2 linked regions of the Homo sapiens genome follow. The protein of the gene in region 1 purifies or fractionates together with the protein of each later gene. This does not show direct contact. Each region holds a gene or a part of one and is shown on either strand. Other genes may lie near its edges.

Evidence for each region.
Region 2: the proteins of AMMECR1 (region 1) and PPIL4 purify together in Homo sapiens (affinity purification with mass spectrometry; 2 studies listed by BioGRID and IntAct, with this or other methods). This does not show direct contact.

What each region holds. Positions count from the first base shown.
Region 1 is NC_000023.11:110,314,825-110,323,351, forward strand, and holds the start of AMMECR1 (nuclear protein AMMECR1), read right to left. Parts: upstream 3,262-8,527; 5' UTR 3,248-3,261; coding exon 2,775-3,247; intron 1-2,774.
Region 2 is NC_000006.12:149,528,838-149,536,428, forward strand, and holds part of PPIL4 (peptidyl-prolyl cis-trans isomerase-like 4), read right to left. Parts: intron 6,902-7,591; coding exon 6,759-6,901; intron 5,938-6,758; coding exon 5,841-5,937; intron 4,738-5,840; coding exon 4,621-4,737; intron 1-4,620. UniProt on the Homo sapiens protein: PPIases accelerate the folding of proteins. It catalyzes the cis-trans isomerization of proline imidic peptide bonds in oligopeptides.

The sequences.
Region 1 (8,527 bases):
ACAGCTTGTTCATATATTGACATCCCCTCAATACTGAGTGGAAGGATAACTAACTGATGGATCTACAGCTTCTAAACCCATAAAACGAGGATTTCACCAGTTACAGACATTCTGAGAGAAAAGTCCTGGGAAAGGATGAAAAGAGTGTGCGTTTACGTATGAGAAGTTAAAACTGTCAAAAGCACAACATCTGGTGGGCAGAGACATGACCTGAAACACACTGCTCATGACATGATAATAACTATGAGAAAAAAAAATCCCAATATGTCTGTTTATGTCTTATGGCACTTAGGATAAAGCAACACTAATAAGTACACAATGCTGTTAAATATGTAAAACAGAAAGACAAATGTGTGGTAGTTACTAAGGCACTGTTGAAATGCTTAGTTATGTCCCTCCCATAATCAGGAAGTTTTCCTGAATTTTCCACAGTACACCTCAAAAATGAGTTGAAGATAAATGGAAATAAGACAGTCCATTTTCCACTTAAGTGAACTTTCATTCTCCACTTGGTCATGTTTAGTGTCTACTCTACATTAGTTGTTTTATAGAATACATGACACATTCAAGGTCTGCTAGATGATAATAGTTATTATTCTTCCACCACCGTTTCAACATATCCACAGTGGTCAAAGTGTGTCCTATCATCTGCTTAATTCCATGAAAAAGAAATCCAGGGGCTGGGGTGTTTGAATAGAATAATATCTAAATACGTGTGCAAAGTGGCTACTGTTAAAATGATATTTTCAAAAGCATTTTCTGTATGAACTGGTCAAGCTCACTTTCCTTTTAAAATTCTTGTTATAGTCATTGAGTTAACCCAAACTCACTGTAAAATGTGTGAAAATAGCACCTCCTGAAAGTGTGTTCTCATATGCTTTGGAGCAATGGAGCGTGAATACTAAAGCAGCCTTTGCCAAACTCATGTTAACAGCTCAAGAACTAAACAGGAGTGAATTTTTGCAGTCCCATGACTTTGCAGAGCCAACCTAAGTATCATCCCAGGACTAGCTTTAATACATCACAGACATCCAAGAGAAGGCATAAAAGTCACAAATAAGTGACTCAAGCTAATAAATATTTCATAGATTTATTTTACATGGCAGTCTTTTCAAAATGAATTTTACTTCTTAACCAAAAAAATGAATTGGCTAAATAAAAGTGTGGACTTAGGATTTAAGCTTCTAGAATTAACACTATGAAATTTATAAAGATATTTATTTGACGAAGTGTTCTCCTGGATGCTCTTTCATGCACTTCTCATAAACCAATGCCCAAAGATTAACCAAGTCTAAAAGAAAATGCACAGACCACAGAAGAGTCATACAAAATTAAAGACATTTAAAGAATGAAAGCCAAAGAAAACAAACAGTACAAATGCACAATTTCCAGGACACTTTATTGTAATTTCCACTTTACATATTAATTTAATATTTTAGTCTAGGCAGAAATGTTTATACTTATACAACAGTAGTCCAATCCTCTAATCTCACAAAATGAAAAGGAGCAGTTTTAAAAGAACATCAATTCAGGTATTTATGATATGGGGGACAAGGGGCACTTGTCTTAGCTGGAAAAGGGGCTGATGCCTTTCAGTACGAGTTTCACTGAAATTTTTTCTGTATTATTTTTCTTGTTGATGCTAAGTACTCAAATAAAAGCAATTGCACTTTTTCTCATTCTGCCCTCTCTTGGTCTTTACATTCTGTCTAGCATTTAACGCAAAAAGTCAGTTTACATTCAGTTTACACATTAAAAAAAAAAAACCATATGCCCCACCTCCCACACATCCAAATGGACAGGGATTAGAATTAACCTGGCTTTTAGCTGTAACAGTGCTATTTTAAAATTTTTCAACCACACACTTGAAGGGTAAAATAATTTAAGATACAAAACCAAAGGAAACCATAACAATTCCTACACATTTACTATTTAACTGTTCTCAAATCATCAAGTATAACATGGATTTCTTAAAAAGTGAAATCGACACAAAAGCGAATGCACGCTTAATGTACAAACTGACCGTGGCTCTGTGGGGACAGTTCTCTTTGAATGAGCTATTATCCAGACGGTGGAATGGAAAAAAAAAAAAAAAAGGTCGCACTCTTCAAATGTGAGGAAGCCGGCAGTGCGCTCGCTACACGAGAAACACATTTTAATGGGTGTATTTGGATAAAAATAAGTAGTAAGGGAAAAATGTGTTTTAAGAAACCTCCCCCCTTCCCAGGGCACAAGAAAACCCAGAGGAGAAGATGGGTAACCTCACAAGCTCCAGAGCTAAGTTCCATCACTAACAGAAGTTGGATAGTTGCTATTTTTCATCCTGCAATGGGATAGTAGTTCTCCATGTGCAAGATACGCGGGGCGGGAATACTGGCGGGGCTTTCACTTGGGGTAATGGAAACCAAAGTGAGGAGAGGTCAACACCTTGAGTAACCCAGATCTCCAAAACCGGGGCAGGGTGAGGGGTGGTGGGGGTGGTGAAGGAGACAAGTAAAGGAGTCAAAACTCCTCGAAGTCATCGCAAAGAGAAAGCTAACACCTCTAGGAGCCACGGGGCCATTCCTTGCAGCAGCACCCTGCTCCAAGTGTGGGGTGCCTGCCTCGGAGGGCAAAAAGCGCAGGGTGCCCTTAGTTCAGTTGAGTAGCTCCGGGGACCCGGGCAGCGAGAGGGCAGGGGCATCCGCCGGCCGGGAGGCGGACTCGCACTTTGCCTCAACTCTGAGCCCCATCCCGAGCGCAAGGGAGAGGGCGGCGGAGGGCACGGTACTCACTAGGGCTCGTTGGTGAATCGGGGGGTCCGGGGCTGCTGGTATCCATACAGGTGACAGTAGAGCACATCGAAGCAAAAGCAGCACATCTCTGCTGACACCACCATCTTCCGGGAGCCCGGCGATGAGGACGAGGCGGCGGACGATGAGGAGGGTGAGGAAGAGGTGGCGGCGGCCGGGGTAGAAAGTAGGGTCCCCACTCCGCAGCTCGGAGGTGGCGACAGGGCGATCCCCCCGCCGCCGCCGCCGCAGCCCTGGGGGGGAGAGAGGGTACAGCCGCTGCCGCTACCTCCTCCGGTTAGACCTCCCAGCCCGTTGAGCCGCGTACCGGCGCCTCCTAGTCCCAGCTCCCCAGCTCGGCACTGGCTCTCTCCGCTGCAGTGGGAGGAGGAGGAGGCGCCACCACCGCCACCCGAGCCAGAGGGGGGCGAACTGGACAGTTTCTGCTTCTTCACCCCGCAGCAACCCGCCGCCATCTTGGAACAGTCTCCCCCACGCAGCGTTTCCGACCCATAAGTGAGGCGAGCTGGCGGCGGGGGCGAGCACGCTGCGGCTCAGGCCGCCGGGGGCGCGCCAGAGGCTGGCGGGGCGCGCGCGCGCCGCTCCCGGCCCCGTCTGCCTAGCCACGCGGCTGCCCCGCGCGCGCCCCCGCCTCGGTGCGCGCTCCTCGCTTTCGCGGCTGGGCGCCTCGCGCCTGTCCCGCCCGACTCGTGCCTCTTCTGAGCCGCAGCCCCAGCCCCAGCCCCAATCTCAATCTCTCCGGCCGGCAGAGGTTGGAAGACAGGAAGCCGATTAGAAAGGAAGGTGAAGGAAACAAGAGTCAGACAGCGGAAAGTGGGAGCAAAGGGAGAAGGTGGGCACGCCCGGGAAGGAAGGAGGGAAAGGGAAACTAGTGGGGGTAGGGGGGAAGAAAGGAGAAAGTCCGAAGTAAGCATCCAGGTCCCAAAGCACAGCTCAGTAACCCCCCGCCGCAAGCAGTATTAATGACACTTAAGCCCAGTTACGTGGAACCTGAGCCACCCGGCCTCAAATACACGGGTTTCTGAACTGTTGGAGTGTGAGCGAGCAGGTGCCCAGAGCTCCATACCTGAGACCGCCCCTGTAAAGTGTGTACAAAGCAATCCAGGAAATGGCCACGCTGCTGTCTTTTTAATTCCAGCCTAAGCACACACCAGGGTACTCTTTCCTTTCCTTATGGAGAAATATTCAAGTCCGACTGAATCTATGTATCTTGTACTTGTTCCCCCAACTTACCCTCCTTGCCCCGTTTAAACATTTAAAAGCCAAAAATAAAGTCCTAACTAATACTTCACTGGTTCAAAGATACTAATTGTGCTTTGGGACTTGCAGTGGTGGACTTTTCTGGTTTTGGTTTTTATTTCTTGGCTTGGGTACAAAGCAATTAGGAATATTATCTGTAGTGCTCAGATCTTAGAGATAAATAGGGAAGGTAATGTACTTAGTCACAAATTGAAAGATTTTGTTCAAGTATATAATTAGCTCTTAATATTCATTTTTAAAATTTCTCAATTAAATGCTTGGATGGATGAGGAGACATATGAGTCAGTCCCTTTCTGGGTGCCTAAGTGCAGCTTAATAATAAAAATAATGACAATAATCAAATGTTAAAATTCGTAGAAATGAACGTGATAGAAATAGAAAGCGTAAGTTATTTGCATTGTATCTACACCATGCTAAAACATCTAGATAAAGTCAGGTATCTGCATATTTAAAAACTGCAGATTGATTTTTGTCACCTTTTTTCTACATGCGTGGGATCTTGCAGATAGCTGGGGGCTGTTCATTCCACTCAGGGAATAAAAACAAAACAATTTATTCATTCAGTAATATTGAGCCTCTGCACCATACTATGTGCACAACACTATACTTCTGTTGAAATCCAGGGCGTACTCAGGAAGTATGCCTCCCGCTCTAAAAGAGTTTATGAATTAAGTCAGATACATGCACATAATCAGATAAATAGCTATTATAGTATGTATTGAACACTTTTTAGGTCTCCAATACCATACCTCGTCCTACCCCATAATCCTTCAGAATAAGATACTATCTCGTTTTATCTTCACAACAATGCTCTGAGGTTACTCATTAACAGATGAGGCTATTAAACCTCAGAAGTAATTTGCCCAACATCACACACCTAGAAAGTAACAGAGCTAGGATTGGAATGCTGGCATGTCTGATTCCAAAAACCATGCCATTATACTACATTGCCTCTCACTAACAATATATGATAACAAGGCTAAGGATGGACAAAAGATAGTGACATTACACTCCAGCAGGTGGAACCGAGGTTAAACAGAAATAAGAACTTAGTTTTTATGGAAAGATTGAGAGACACTGAAATATGTTACCAAGGAAAGATGAAAAATCTCCTTCCAAAAAGATTTTATGAGATAGATAGATGAAAATCTGGAATGGTTAGATGCAGCCTAAAGACAAAAGGGATAGTTTAATTGGTCGGTGATATGTAATTTCATCCTCTCAAACTTCATCACTGTTAGAATTAACCTTAAGTATGAAACAAATAACAATTCTTTGTCAATTACTAGTGGAGTAAAAAAATGCATTAATATTTTGTCTATGTTACAGAAGAGAAAGCAGATTGGTTTTTTTAAAAAGCACCACAACAACTGGTATGTTAGGGTGTTTTGTACGTTAGGGTGTTTTGTTTTGTACTTTGTCCTTAACTACCACAGGCTACCTTTTAATTTTTTTGAAACTAGACTGAACATAATATCAGACAATAGGTATCGATTTACTCCCCACCCCACTAAAGTGATCATTTCTAGAGTAAAAAACCAGAGCCATTTAATGACATCACAAAACAGTTTAGCACAGGAAGCAAAGTAGGATACCATGGATGGCTGCTTCTGCTAGGGGAATTTAGGAAAGCAGAATGTAATCTCCCAATTTAGAATTTGGCCAGTAGACAAGAGTCTAACGCCCCTACTCTTGTGAAAAATAGCAAGGAATCTTTAATAAGCACCAGTAGTCATGTCCTTAGTTCTGCATTTCATCTAAAAGACAAAGCACTATCATGGCTATCCTGCCAGGCTAAGGGACTGATGCAATGGGAAAACCCAAAGACAAGGACACCCCAGCTGAATTACAAAAATAGCTTTTCCCTAGAGGATTTTCAATTCCAATTCCAAACCTCACTAGCATAAAGAAAATAGACAAACACAAATGTGATAATTGCAGAAAATACATCATTACCTGACCGCTAGGGGTTATTATCTAAGTACTTTGTTGTATTGGCTGACTAAAAGGGGGAAAAACACTAACCTTTATCTTTGTGTTAACTTCTCCTGAGCCTGGCTCATCTCCCATACTAACCTTGAGCCTCAAGATGCTTTATAAATCGCTTGGCAAGTAGTGGTGATGGTGGTAATGTCTCCTTTAGGCATTTGAGGAAATGCCTCTCCTGGCCTTGTTTTCTTGTAAAGTCACCAGCATAAAAAGAAACATATTTCATTCAAACATAAACTAAATCCACAGAACAAATTCTGTGAAAAAAATTTTTTTACATCTATGCAAAGTGCACACTGGGTGGATAGAAAAACTGACCTTGCTCAGGATTCTCTTGACTTGAAGTATAAAGGTCAAAATATGATAGAGCACATGGTTTCTACCCACTGCTGATACTGGACTGCAGTGATAATACCCTCCAGAGGAAACTTTAAGTTGCCTTCCTCTCTTTGTAACTGACTGTCAATCTGGGAGCTGAAGATTCCACTTAAAAAAAAAAAATAGGCCATAGTCTCTTTGTCAACAAAGCACATTCAAATTGTGAGCATTTTTATTTCTGCAATTTAGAGGCAGCTCTAAATTGCTGTTAACTAACTCCTGTCAAAGGCTTTGTTTTACAACTGTGGAAAAAAATACTTGGACAGAGGTTATGCATATTATTTATTGTGCAGCAAAGCTAGTAATTGAATTAAACCCAATAGTTAGTTAATATATTATCATTGCCTCAATTTGTTCTCGTGTTTACAACATAGTTATTTTTTCATTTCAGAAAATAAGAATAATTATAATTCGATGAGGTGGTGAACTTAATGTTGCAAAATTATTTTCTTAGGTTTCTGGGGTTGTGGGTAAAAGGAGGAACATTCACATATTTCATTGAAAAAAAAACCTGCCATTTATGCCCAAACAAGTGTTATTTTTATCCTCTGTCATCAAACTTTCTCAACTGTCATCCTTGAACAACTGCAGAATGTAATATTCTTAGCTACCACTTTGATCTAACCTTGTACACGTATAACACATGGTTGTTGTGGTGGAGGTGGTAATCAGTTCCCTTTTATATTTGAATGAATACGTGAGTAAATACTGAAATTCTTTACCTACTTTTCAATTCAAATTCGTAAATCAGTTTTTGTTTTTCTGATTACAAAACAGATCCTTCCTTCCAAAATTCTTTCTTTATCTAATGAACACATTTATGAGCAAAAGCACCATGATCTACCTTGGATTGTTTTCTAGTTGTTTCATTTACATCTTCTATTGTCAACTTGAGTACAAACTAATTGAATGTTGTTTTGCTACCTATTTCCTTTAGAGAAAGTTCTATAAACTCCTTAATGAGATTTAGATATGCTAATATCTACTCTGAATGTGGAAGAATTAATAAAGCTAGCTAGTTGTAGATTGGAGAAAAAGGCTTTCTAGGAAGAAGATGATCAAACAGAGTGTTATTTGGGGCAGTTAGAGGAGTTGTGAACAATCAAAACATGAAGGTGTCTACTATAGTTTGGGAAAGTCTTTACTTGACTGTTTTTCTCTTTTCTCTCTTTTTAAAAGAAGAATTCATCTACTAGCTTCTGTACATATATTGGGGTTTGAAAATGTACATAATGAAACCCAATTGGCCTCACCTGAAAAGTTAATTATAAAAATATAGCTGTTTAACTAATCTCATTGTGTTCTGGGGCACCTATTCCAGTTGGTTGGAGGCACAGTTTTGGCAGGGTGAGGATTAACATTGTCAATTAAAATATAAAAGTCTGTTCTGAATTAAGTCTCTTTTGTACAAATAATCAATGTAAAGTACAAACTCACTCATGGCACCGAGGAGCAGAAATCTGATCCCTATAACCTCTGCTAGATCCCACTTGAAGTGTAGCTCATTTTGCCTCACTCTATTCACTGCTTAAATGTTCACAATTTATGGCTTATTCTCTCAGCATGAGTAATACACAATGATTGTGTCAGGAAGCTCAGTCGTCTCTCATTACTTACTATTCGGGATTCCTACCCTAGCTCCTAATAGTGCAGCTAACCCTCCAAACTTCAGCCAGATCCTCCATCTGGCCCCTGACGTTGGCTATCCACCCTACAGCCTTTTCTTTGGGGCTGTTCACCTTATGCCACAGCCACTGCCTGGTAAGTAGGCTGCTGCTTAATCCTCAGCTGACTTCTGCATCTTCCACAAGATTCCACAAGGGATTCTAGATTTCTTTCATGCCACTTGACGGTCTTCTAAAACCTCAAGCTGCTATTTCTATTGCAGATACTTCATGGTAGCATATAGCTTTTCTAAGGGGCTTGAAATTTCCCATGCTACACTCTGCTCTGTGTTTCCTCCAGAATTCTCTGGTTTGTTCTTTCTTTCTTCTTTTTATTGAGATATAATTCACAAAGGATACCATCCACCCATTTAAATTTTACAATTCGATGATTTTTAGAATATTCATGCAGTTATGCAACCTTCAACATAATCAATTTTGGAC
Region 2 (7,591 bases), on another chromosome or scaffold:
GCCAAAACTTGGAAGCAACCAAGGTATCTTTCAACAGGTAAAAAATATACAAGCTGTGATACATCCATACAATGAAACATTACTTAGCAATTAAAAGAAATGAGCTATCAGCCATGCATGGTGGCTCACGCCTGTAATCCCAACACTTTGGGAGGCCAAGACAGGAAGATCACTTGAACCTGGGAGTTTGGGATCAGCCTGAGCAACATGGGTAAGACTCCATCTCTACAAAAAAATTTAAAAATTACCAAGGTGTGGTGGCGTGTGCCTATAGTCCCAGCTACTCAAGAGGCTGAGGCAGGAAGACTGCTCAACCTCAGTTCAAGGTTATAGTGAGCTATGACAGCACCACTGCACTCCAGCCTGAGTGAAAGAGTGAGACTTTCTCTAAAAAAAAAAAACAAAAAAAAGAAAGAAATGAAATCCCAGGCCGGGCAACATAGTGAGACTCTGTCTCTACAAAAAATAAAATTAGCCGGGCATGGTGGCACACGCCTGTGGTCCCAGCTACTTGTGAGGCTGAGGTAGGAGGATTACTTGAGCCCTGGAGGTCGGGGTGCAGTGAGCCATTATTGTGCCACTGTCCATGCAACAGAGCGAGAACCTGTCTCAAATAAAAAAAAATTAAAAAAAATTAAAAAAAGGGCCGGGCAGGGTGACTCATGCTGTAATCCCAGCACTTTGGGAGGCTGAGGCGCGCAGATCACGAGGTCAAGAGATCAAGACCATCCTGGCTAACACGGTGAAACCTCGTCTCTACTAAAAATACAAAATAATTAGCCGGGCGCGGTGGCACGTGCCTGTAGTCCCAGCTACTCAGGAGGCTGAGGCAGGAGAATCTCTTGAACCTGGGAGGCAGAGGTTGCAGTGAGCCGAGATAATGCCACTGTACTCTAGCCTGACGACAAGAGCGAGACTCCGTCTCAAAAAAAAAAAAAAAAGGAGGGAAAGAAAAGAAAGAAAAAGAAAAAGGGAAAGGAGAAAGGGAAAGGGAAGAAAGAAAAAAGGCACAGTGGAACCTTAAATGTATATTGCTAAGTGAAAGAAGACAGTCTGAAAAGGCTACATACGCTATAATTCCAACTATATGACATTTTGAAAATGCCAAAACTATATAGACAGTAAAAACATCAGTAGTTGCCAAGAAGTGGGTGTTGGGGGTGGGGATGAACAGGTGGAGCCCAGGGGATTTTTTAGACAGTGAAACTACCTTGAATGATCCTGTAAGGGTAGATATATGCTATCGTACATTTGTCAGTTCCACCGAATGTACAACACAAAGCTTGAATTCTAACGTAAATCATGGATTTTAATTAATAATGTATCAATATTGGCTCATCAATTGTTAACAAATGTGTCACAATAATGCAAGACTGGGGGAAAGAGGGAGGGAGTACTTAGAAACTCTCTGTACTTTATGTTCAGTTTTTCTGTAATTCTAAAATTGCTCTACAAATTGTCTATTAAAAACAAAGCCAAAAAAAGAATCCATGAGACACGGATAATGAACGGATAGATAAGCAGTTAAGAAGGGAGGGCTCAGGCGGGCACAGTGGCTCACACCTGTAATCCCAGCACTTTGGGAGGCCGAGGCAGGCAGATCACCAGGTCAGGAGTTTGAGACAAGCCTGACCAACATGGTGAAACCCTGTCTCTACTAAAAATACAAAAATTAGCTGGGCGTGGTGGCGGGCACCTATAATCCCTGCTACCCAGGAGGCTGAGGCAGGAGAATCGCTTAAACCTGGGAGGCAGAGGTTGCAGTGAGCCAAGATTGCGCCATTGCTCTCCAGCCTGGGTGACAGAGCGAGACTCCATCTCGGAAAAAAAAAAAGAAGGGAGGGCTCTTCCTTACAGTAGAATGCAGGTTGGTAATTGTGGAAAAAGTGGTGGGGGTGGGAAATTACCACTTTGCATAATTACCACTTTGCACTTAGCAGAGTCAAAACTGGTGCAGTCAGGAATCATGAATGGCTGAGAAATTTATGGGGGAAATTTGACAAGGAACAAGACATTTGAAAGATCTCCAAGTGTCTAGCCACAGATTGTCTATTGGAGACACCAGGCAGTGGACTACCATGACCAAGTGACCAAAATTACTCATCTTCCAATGAATATCGTACACCTCCAGATGTGACCTCTGAGGACACAACATCACTCACGTACTATTTCGGCTGTGGGTGCATAACCTGAATCTAATCATGAGGAAAGAGTAGATAAACCTAAATTGAAAAATATTCTATTGGCCGGGCACGGTGGCTCATGCCTGTAATCCCAGCACTTTGGGAGGCCAAGGCAGGAGGATCGCCTGAGGTCGGGAGTTGGAGACCAGCCTGGGCAACACAGTGAAACCCTGTCTCTACTACAATTACAAAAAATTAGCTGGATGTGGTGGCAGGCGCCTGTAATCCCAGCTACTCGGGAGCCTGAGGCAGAAGAATCGCTTGAACCCGGGAGGCAGAGGTTGCAGTGAGCCAAGATCGTGCCATTGCACTCCAGCCTGATAACAGAGCGAGATTCTGTCTCAAAAAAAAAAAAAAAAAAAAAATTAGCCAGGCGTGGGTGGCAGGCACCTATAATCCCAGCTATTTGGGAAGCTGAGGCAGCTGAATCGCTTGAACCTGGGAGGTGGAGGTTGCAGTGAGCCGAGATCATGCCATTGCACTTCAACCTGGGCAACAGAAACTCCGTCTCAAAAAAAAAAAAAGGAAAATATTCTACAAAATAAATGCAACAGATGATAAGTCACGAGCTGGATTCTAGTCTGGAGGAGGAAACAATTATAAAAGATATTATTAGAACAACTGGCAAAATTGGAATATAAACTGTAATTTCTTTTTTCTTTTTTTTGAGACGGAGTCTCGCCCTGTTGCCCAGGCCGGAGTGCAATGGCGCGATCTCGGCTCACAGCAACTTTCGCCTGCTGGGTTCAAGCGATTCTCCTGCCTCAGCCTCCTGAGTATCTAGGATTACAGCCGCATGCCTCTATACCCAGCTAATTTTTGTATTTTTAGTAGAGACGGAGTTTCACCATGTTGGCCAGGCTGGTCTCGAACTCCTGACCTCGTGATCCACCCGCCTCGGCCTCCCAAAGTGCTGGGATTACAGGCGTGAGCCACTGTGCCCGGCCCTATAAACTGTAATTTCTGTCACTTCTAAATTTTCTGATTTTGGTAACTACACTGTGAATACGTACATATTGTTATACACATTGAATACTGCTGCTCTTAGGAAATACACACTGATTAAGAGGTAAAGGGAAATAACAGGCAACTTACTGTCAAATAGTCGAGAAAAAAAATGTGTGTTTATGTGCTTGTATAATCAGAGAGAGAGAAAAAGAGAGAATCATAAAACAGATGTAGCAAAATGTTAAAAATTGGTGAATGTGGGTAAAAGGTATATAGAAGTTCTATGTACTTTTTCCCATAAATTTGAAATTATCTGAAAACAAAAAGTTTTAAAAAGTATGTTAATCTATTTTCTTCTGGCATAAACTTCCAAAGTGTTGCTGTGGAAAAGTCTGATAACAATCTAAATTCATTCCCTTATAAGTAACTTATTCTTTCTGCCCAATTGTTCAACATATCTTTCAAGTGTAGTAATTCTCTTAGAATTTGTCTTGGTGTTGGGTGTTCAGAGTCAATACTCTGAGATACACAGTGTGCTCATTAAAATGTGTATTTTCAATTAATTTTTTTAATTTCAGTAAAGCTTTCTTGAACTATACAGCCTTTACTATTTGTTCATTCAGACAGTTGATGGTAATATAAACTTAAGCCTGGCCAACATAGGGAGATCCTGTCTCTACAAAAAAAATTTTAAAATTAGCAGGGCATTGTGGTGTGTGACTGTGGTCTCAGCAACTCAGGAGGCTGAGGCAAGGGCATTGCTTAAGCTGAGGAGTTGGAAGCTGCAGCAAGCTATGATCATACACCACTGTACTCCAGCCTGAACAACAGAGTGAGACCCTGTCTCTATAAAATAATAAATAAATAAACTTTAAAACAGACTACAAATCTGAAAGTTCTATTATATAAAATAGTAACTTTATTATCCATTCATTCCAATATTTATTATCTATGATATGACAGGTATGCCTATTCTACAAAAATAAGAAATGGAAAATAATACCAAGTAGGTCAATTAATCATCTACTGAATTATTATTCCCCAAATGACTTCAGGTTGTTAGTAATACAGAGAAGCAGTATATTTTAGAGTGCTCAGTTTCCACCCATTATTTTGCCCTACAACTACCATTCTGTTTAATCTTAACACTTGAGTGGTACAGTGAAGAACTATTCTTTAATATACATAAAATTCAGCCTGCTAAACACTCTTTAAGAATGAGATGAATATTAAACAACTGAAATTCAATTAATAAGTTAGAGATCCACTTCCCACTGTTTAAAAAGGCACTTAGCACTATATTGACAGTAGAGTCAAATTTATTTTCACAGTAGAGCCAATTTATTACTATGCCATACCAAATTTAAATCAGAAAAAAATCATAACTCAATTTTTAACATTTTAAGACTACTGAAGAGCCAGAAATAAACACTCAGTAAGTATTATTAGATATATTACAGAACAATTTGAACAAAGATAATTATCTTACCATCTCCAAAAGTATAGCCTGAGTTTTAGCCTCTTTTTCTGCCTTTATTTCTTCTACTTCCTCAGCTGATCTTCCTTTGAAATCATCAATTTCTTCATCTGCTCCTATTCGACCACTCTGTTAAGACAGAAGTTACTCATGTATATATTTAAAGAATAAAAAAATCTGAGAAACATAGAAGACATACTTTATTCTTAGTTATATCAAACATGCTAAAACAGTAACTGATCAAGGTTGCAGTGAGCTACAATCACACCACTGCACTCCAGCTGGGTGACACAGTGAGATCTTGTCTCTAAAAAAAAATTTTTAATAATTAATTGGACAGCAACTGAGACAAACTTATAAACCTCCAAGAATTGATTTATATTAATTCTAAAATATTAGCCAAAGTGGGCTTCTGTTAAAATCAAAATAGGCCAGGCATGGTGGCTCGTGCCTGTAATCCCAGCACTTTGGGAGAACACGCAGGTGGATCACTTGAGGTCAGGAGTTCGAGACCAGCCTGGCCAACACAGTGAAACCCTGTCTCTACTAAAAATACAAAAATTAGCTGGGCGTGGTGGCATGCACCTACAATCCCAGCAACTCAAGAGGCTGAGGCACGAGAATTGCTTGAATGAGGAAGGCAGAGGCCACAATGAGCCGAGATCCCACCACGCACTCCAGCCTAGGCAACAAAGTGAGACTCCATCTCAAAAAAATAAATAAATATTTATATGGACACTATTTATTATCCAATTCTAACTGCTGAATGAAGAGAAATGATCTGACAATTAAGCACCAATCCCAACCATAAAGACAAATTCAGCTTTCAGGAAGCCACATAAACCTTAAAATATGTGGGGGAACAGTCTGCGCTGTTTCACAGAAATTTCTGGGTTCTAGCCTGGCTCCAGAGTGTCCCCAGTTGAAAAGTTACCTCACAAGATAACAGTTTAATTTGATGACAAGAAAAACACTTTCCCAAGGTGTTCATGTAAGCTTCTAGAGCTGAGGTTGTCTCAGTAGAAAAGAAACTGAAGAAAGGAAATTAGAGAAATGAGAAGACAGCTAGAAAAATGAGTACCTCTGTGGAAAAGAAAAAGAACTCCAAACTTGTTGAATATAATTAAGCAAGATAATAATTCGGAAAAAATTAACTTTAACAGATGAAAAAGATAAATCCATACAAATCATTAATATGAATGTACATTTAATCATAAGAGGGCTTTACTTACATCTAATTGTTCCCTTGTAGGTTCTGGTGATCGATCAGGGATTAATAAATCAGGAGGGTCATCAAATGGATCATCTAAAATCACCGTATGATTTATCCTTACAAAATAAATCCAAATCAAATGTTATACATTGAAGTTATTTCAGAATCCTATTTTATTTTAATAGATTACAAAAAATTACTTGATTATCTCTAAGGCCAAAAAAAACCCATATTGCATATGGATATTACTAACCTAGATATACTTTCACAATGAGTGTTACTGTTTTGCATTGAGTGATACCATATTTATCACCCTGCATTACTTTAAGATGTAAACTAATATAACTGTCTAAATCTTAGTACTTTTGCCCTACTTCTCAATTAAAAAACTAAATTAAAGCATTAACAATTCCTCCAGCTGGGTGCAGTGGCTCATTCCTGTAATCCCAACACTTCAGGAGGCTGAGGTGGGTGGATCATGAGGTCAGGAGATCGTGACCATCCTGGCTAACATGGTGAAACCCCGTCTCTACTAAAAATACAAAAAATTAGCCAGGTGTGGTGGCGGGCGCCTGTAGTCCTAGCTACTTGGGAGGCTAAGGCAGGAGAATGGTGTGAACCCGGGAGACAGAGCTTGCAGTGAGCCAAGATCGCGCCACTGCACTCCAGCCTGGGCAACAGCATGAGACTCCGTCTCAAAAAATAAATAAATAAATAATTCCTCCAAACATAATTATAAATAATTAGTACAAGTATAAAAATACAAAAAGTCCTTTTTATTATAAAGATTCTTACAGTCTTATATTAATTCACCTTTTGGGATTAGAATTATCCAGAAACCAGTCCTATGCATACCGTTCCTATCCATACCACTACGTGTTAAACATCTCAATATTAAAACATTCTAGTACATTCAGATAGCAAATTGTAACCATACCTGATATCCTGATATGGTACAAAGTCCTTGTCAACAAAGGTCTCATTAATTTTCTTAATTATGTCCATGCCTTCTGTCACCTCACCAAACACCGTATGGACACCATCAAGATAATCTAGATTTTCTCCTGTGGTGATAAGAAACTATAAAGAAGGACACATAATAAATACCATAAAAATAATACATAACTCAAACTGAAATCAGTTACAGACTGACAAAAAAATACATGAAAGTTAAGAGTCCACATTTACTGCACCAATTCTTAGACACTTGTTACCAAAACTAAGTAAAAAGTACAAAGCTTATACTGGCATACCTCATTTTATTGCACTTTGCAGATACTGCATTTTTTACAATTAAGGATTTCTGGCAACCGTGTATTGAGTAAGTCTATTGGTGCCATTTTCCCAACAGCATAGGCTCACTTCATGTTTCTGGCTCACATTTTGGTGATTCTCACAAGATTTCAAACTTTTTCATTACTATTGTATCTGTTATTACCATCTATAATCTTTGATCTTACTACCGCAATTGTTTTGGGGCACCACAAACTGTGCCCATATAAGATGGTGAACTTAATCCATAAATGTTGTATGTGTTCTGACTACTCCACCAACCAGCCATTCCCATCTTTCTCCCTCTCAGTGCTCCCTATTCCCCGAGACACAATACTGAAATGAGGCCAATTAACCCTACAAGAGACTCTTAAGTGTTCAAGTAAAAGGAAGAATGGCACATCTCTTACTTTAAATCAAAAGCTAAAAATGATTAAGCATAGTGAGAAAGGCACGTTGAAAGCCAAGATAAGCGGAAAGCTAGGCCTCTAGTACCAA